Regions from separate parts of the Homo sapiens genome. Here region 2 is linked to region 1. The links come from fine-mapping of genetic effects on gene expression. A gene starts in region 1. The other region holds a variant in brackets. All regions are shown on one strand. Distances are between the middles of the regions.

Region 1 (2,901 bases):
ACCACAGCCCGTTAAACAAGGGCATTTCATGGGAAACGGAGAGGGAGCAGATGAGAGACCTTGAAACCTTCCAGCAACCTTACCCCCACTTCCAAACTCCCGCGACTACCCCAAGACCATTTCGGCCAAATCTCAGTAACTGGCACCATCTTGTACTTTGACCTCACCAGGCAAGGCATCCTCTGGGGAGAGGGGTTAAAAAAAAAAAAAAAAAAAGCCAGAACTCCACGGCTCAGCGCCACGCTGTTCCACCTCCCCCAGGCTGCCAGTTCCCCACCTAGAGGGAAAAGGCTGTTCCAGCGATCTCAGTAAACACTGTCGGTTGGCAACACCTGGCCGCGGAGAGCCTCGATCTCTCCCGACCCCAGACACCCGGGAGCTGCCCGGTCCCAAACCCGGGCCAGCCACGGGGACCAAACTGCAGTGTCACACCGGGGTCGGGGGGAGGCGCCTGTGAGAGACGAACGGAATAAAGGGAAAGAAGGGGGACAAACAAATGAGTCACTTAATACAAGGGCTGCACATGCCGCTGACGCTGCCGGTGATGCAGCCGCGGACGGAGGGAGGCCGGCGGCCGGGAGGGGCAGGCGGAGAAAGGGAAGGAGAGGGCGTGAGGCGCTCGCCCTTTGTGGGGCCGTCCGCGCGGCCCCACAGCCTACGCCCCCCTTTCCCGCCCTCTCCCCGACCCTGCGGGCTGAAGCTGCTCGGGGCTGCCGCGGAGCCCCAGCCCCGAGAGTCAACTCTCTCGGTCTCCAGAAGCCATCAATACAAAACTTCGACACTGTATTTAGTTCACGAGCAGACCGGCTTGGGAGGCGCCGCAGCCGCACCCGCCTGGCGGAGCAGGAGCCGCAGCCTCAACCTGCCGCCCGCCCCGCCCCTCGGCGGCCCACCTGTGACAGGTGTGCAGGTGCCCCACACGCCCCCGGCCGCTCCTCGCCCCCGGCCCCCCGCGGCTCCGGGCCCGAGCTCCCCAGCCTGCCGCCCCTCCGGGAGTCCCCCGCCCCTCCGCAGGCCCCGGAGCGCCCCCCGCCCGCCCCTGGGCGGCCGCGCCCGCACTCACATAGCGCCTCAACTTCTTCTCGGGAGGCGATTTCCTCAGCCAGCCGGTGCACACCACGTCGCCGCCGCCGCTCATGCTGCCGGCCTGGAGCCCCCCGCCGGGTCGCGCGGACGAGGGCGCGGGCTCGGGCAGCTGGGGCAGCGGCCGGCGGTGCGCAGCTCGCGGGAGGCCAGGGGCGGGGCGGGCGGCCCGGCGGGGACTAGGCGGCGCGGCGCGGCGCGAGCCCGGCAGCCTCGCGCGCGCCCGCTCCCCCGCCCCGAGCGCGCGCAATCCGCACTCTCCGCCCGGCCGCCGGGGGAGCAGCTGCAGCAGGAAGGCCGGCTCGCTCGCCACGCCCGCTCCCGCCGCGCCCCCGAGGCCGCCGCGCACGCGGACGCGGGGCTAGGGACCCGCGAGGATACAGAAAGCCACCGCCGCCGGCGCGCCCCGGAGTCTCGCTTTCTCCTGAGGCCCCAAGCCGCGGGCGCGGAGGCCAGGGAGGCGACCGCGCCCCTGGCGCTGGCGGGTGTGAGGGGAAGGGACTGCGCGCCCTCGGTCGTCGATCGATTTTTCACCGAGCGTCGACGGGGAAGGGATACTAGGGCTGCTCACATTTCCGATACATTCTGCGGGTCAGGTTCCGGCTGAAAGGAGGGACCCCTTCCCAGCAAGAAGCTCCTTAACTCTGGCGTCCCTCGGCGGGAGGAGGAGACGGACCTACTACGCGCCGGAGCCTTTGCTTTTGTAGCTTACAGGATTGTCTTCAGTATTGTTCCTATTTTATGGACAGCCTAAGGGCAAGGGCTTGTACAAAGCCGAGCCAATTTTCCAATTCAGGTGTGTGGGGGAGGAGGGGTCCCGGTCATCTGCTATTCAAAATGAGGGCATTGCCTTAATGGGATCGACCTGGGAGCCTCTCATTGCCTGGAAACCAAGTCCAGCTGACTCCCTCCTACACTGCCTCTGGGAAAACACAGTTTAGTATAGAAAATTCGCATGATTTGTAGAATGGAAGAAGCAAAACTAGTCAATGTATTTCATAACGAATTGGAAGGCAAGGTCAAGTGCAGAAGAACAAGAAATTGGGGTCCAAATTCCCCAACGTTCCCGCTCATTGACACAGGCTATGAGACCTCTGTTTGTAAATATAATGGTATCCCAGATGTACGTGGAAGCACACAACCCCAGCACTTCAGCGGGAGGGGGGAGAAAAAAATCTTTTGTACGAGCTCTTTTCTCATCACAAAGTGTCTCTCTAAGCAGCATTAAAAGGCAGGTCCTCCCTAACTTCTCTGATAAGTGGATAGTAACCTGTTTATTCAATGGGGAACCGTGCTGTGTGGACAGATGAATTGGAGAAGCAGCATCTTGCAGTGCCCCACACAACCTCAGACTAAAGCTGTTTTGTTTATTTCTGTCTCTGTGCAGCTGAGTTGTTTCAAGCAGTTGGACATCATTTGGTCCAAAAGATCTTGATTGGGTTGGGGGAAGTTCACCCTCCTCAATTTGGAAAAGCGAATCCCCTACCACGTACTTAGCTCTTCTAGATACCCTGGGAGTTTTAGCGGTCAGTCCCCTGGATCTAACATTTCACTGACTTTCTTCAATATCCAGTGTGCTGCTGGATGGGAAGTAAAGCCAGAACTGGTAGGCTGGGACCACAGCTCCCTTAACCTTACAATTTAGGGATCCTTAAGTCACGTATGAAGGGCCACCACCAGAATGATGGCCATTTTAACTTCTGGCTTTAAGTACCTTAAATCCCTGTAAGACAAACAACACTTAACGTCTGCCAAATCAATCAGGAGGCGGTGACTTCCAACCAAAATAAAACTATCCTGACTTCATTCACATCTGAG
Region 2 (2,901 bases), 330 kb before region 1:
ATTCAATATATTGATGACCTTCTACTTTGTAGCCCCTCCTTTAAATCTTCTCAACAAGACACCCTCCTGCTCCTTCAACATTTATTCTCGAAACCATTATATAAACTCAGAAAGGGAAACCTAGCCAACCCCACAGATCCTAAATCCTTTCCCCACTCCTCTTTCCATTCCTTGAAAACAGCTCTAGAAACTGCTACCACACTAGCTCTCCCTGACTCATCCCAACCCTTTTCATTACACACAGCTGAAGTACAGGGCTGTGTGGTCGGAATTCTTACACAAGGACCGGGACCGCGCCCTGTAGCCTTTTTGTCTGAACAACTTGACCTTACTGTTTTAGGCTGGCCCTCATGTTTGCGTGTGGCAGCTGCCACCGCTCTAATACTTTTAGAGGCCCTTAAAATCGCAAACTATGCTCAACTCACTCTCTACAGTTCTCATAACTTTCAAAATCTATTTTCTTCCTCAAACCTGATGCATATACTTTCTGCCCCTCCAGCTCCTTCAGCTATACTCACTCTTTGTTGAGTCTCCCATAATTACCATTGTTCCTGGCCCAGACTTCAATCCGGCCTCCCACATTATTCCTGATACCACACCTGACCCCCATGACTGTATCTCTCTGACCTACCTGGCATTTCAACTTCTGTCACAACCTTCCATTGTCTTTCTAATGACTTTCCTGCTAGCATTACAGATATATCACAAACTTTATCAGTCCTTCGGGCCCAGGTCGGTTCCTTAGTCGCAGTTGTCCTCCAAAATCACCAAGGCCTTGACCTACTCACTGCTGAAAAAGGAGAACTCTGCATATTTTTAAATGAAGAATGTTGTTTTTATCTAAATCAATCCAGCCTGCTATATGACAACATAAAAAAGCTTAAAGTTAGGGCCCCAAAACTCGCCAGCCAGGCAAATAATTATGCTGGACCTACCTGGGCACTTTTTAACTGGGCGTCTTGGCTCCTTCCTACTCTTAGTCCCCTGGTACCTGTTTTTCTCCTTCTCTTATTTGGGCCTTTTGTCTTTCATTTAGTCCCTCAATTCACACAAAACCGCATCCAGGCCATCACCAATCATTCCATACTGCAGTTGCTGCTTCTAACAACCCCATGGTACTATCCGGTGCCCCAAAATCTCCCCACAGCCTAAACTTCTATTCCTCGTCCTATTATACTCCTTCTCACCTTTAGGACTAAACCAGTGATGAACTCCTGGCAACATCCAGACAAGACCAAGCTTCTGTGCAACACCCCCTCCAAACGGCTGTCCAAACATACTTCCAGGCCTGCTTCACCCGTTCCTCTAAACCATAATCTCTGAGGACCTGCTGTCTATAAAAACAACTTCCTTCAGGCCTTGTCCTCCAAAATGTTCCCCACCCCCAAAATCAAAGACCTCTGAATTAAAAATCTAAAATGCCTGGGGTGGCAGCTGTCAAATCCTTGCCCATGGGGTCCTCAGGCCTACTCATATAGAAATGACCAGCAATATGCATATA[G/C]AGGACCAGTTCCACATATCTGGCACTCAGGTCAACATCCAGGACGACACATGGTCTGTCATTGGTTATTAGAAGGCCTAGGACATTTCTCTCTTTGCCAGCCCCAACTTATTCCAGGAGACAGGGACTATTGTACTTACTGTCTTTCCTGTATAGGGTCTGCAGTAAGGACTATTGAACTCCTCCATTCAAAACACCACTCACACCTTTGGGAAAAAAGTAACATAATAGACTTTTGGCTCGATGCCAGGGGATCCTATTCATATGATGGCAAATGGGGACAAAAGGCCTTGGTATATAAAACGTTATTCCTACCTTGGCCTAAAAACTCACTGCCACCTACCTTAAAGCTATTATGCTTAATTGCTATTTTTAGATAATTTATTCTACTAGGAGAATTCCAAGCTCAAAAATATGCTAACTGGTGCCTTGTTAGCCACACAAAATTGTACCCGAAAACTTTCTAGACCAACTCACTATAAAATTAAATTTTCTTTAGGTGTCCATGCTGCCCCTAAGTCATGCCTGAAGCAGCCCTGAGAAACATCGCCCCTGCCCCAATAATCCCCAGTAAAAACTTATATTTTCTTTATCTTTTCTTATAACTTTATATTTTATAAATAAAAAGACAGGAATGTCAGGCCTCTGCGCCGAAGCTCAGCCATTGTAACCCCTGTGACTTGCACATATGTGTCCAGATGGCCTGCAGGAGCCAAGAAGTCTGGGGCAGCTGAAAAACCACAAAAGAAGTAAAACAGCCAGTTCCTGCCTTAACAGATTAACCAACATTCCACCATTCCACCATTGTGACTGGTCCCTGCCCTACCTTAATGGATCGATTGACCTTGTGACATTCTTCTTCTGGACAATGAGTCTTATGATCTCCCTACCATGTACCTTGTGACCCCCCTCCTCTGCTAACAATAGATAACCACCTTTTAGTGTAATTTTCCATTACCTACCCAACTCCTATAGGGCAACCCCTTCCCCATCTCCCTTCGCTGACTCTCTTTTCAGACTCAGCCCACTTGCACCCAAGTGAATAAACAGCCTTGTTGCTCACACAAAGCCTGTTGGTGGCGTCTTCACACAGACATGCGTGACATCTGCTCACCCACCTCTAATACTGCAGATTGAACAGTTCCCTTTGGAAAGCCCTTCCTGATGTTGAGCTAAAATGTCTTCCTGTCATGTCCATTCATTAGTAGAATAAACATTTTATCCAAATGAGGCTGATTAAACCAGAGGTTTATGCAAAGGTGTATGCATCAAAGATAGTGATTTCCTGAGTGGAAGAATTAAATACCAGCTAAGAGTGATTACATAAAGCATGGACCTTTTATCTCTATAGAAAAAACGCTACCTGACAATATTTCAAGTTAGAATTTTGCTTTTCTTTT

Which allele goes with the higher level. Alleles are on the strand shown, and positions count from the first base shown. SD is a standard deviation of normalised expression in the study named.
For the expression in cerebellar hemisphere of the gene that starts at base 1,238 in region 1, allele C in region 2 goes with a higher level than allele G (small effect, 0.26 SD a copy in GTEx).

Evidence for each region. PIP is the estimated chance that this variant, and not a neighbour inherited with it, causes the effect. A credible set is the group of variants that fine-mapping cannot tell apart.
Region 2: its variant is the best candidate, but not a certain one, in a credible set for the expression of GAB2 in cerebellar hemisphere (GTEx, PIP 0.60).

The regions. Positions count from the first base shown.
Region 1 is chr11:78,416,583-78,419,483 of GRCh38, forward strand. It overlaps GAB2 (GRB2 associated binding protein 2), which reads right to left and starts at 1,238. Exons shown (of 10, transcript NM_080491.3): 1 at 1,064-1,238. The coding sequence starts at 1,138. RefSeq lists silencers at 1-135, 598-727, 798-897, 1,008-1,627 and an enhancer at 224-978.
Region 2 is chr11:78,084,427-78,087,327 of GRCh38, forward strand. It overlaps LOC105369401 (a long non-coding RNA gene), which reads left to right. Exons shown (of 3, transcript XR_950342.2): 3 at 1,194-2,569. Among named protein-coding and RNA genes, the nearest start is that of NDUFC2-KCTD14, 6.0 kb to the left of the region's middle. The variant G/C (reference allele first, on the strand shown) is at 1,502.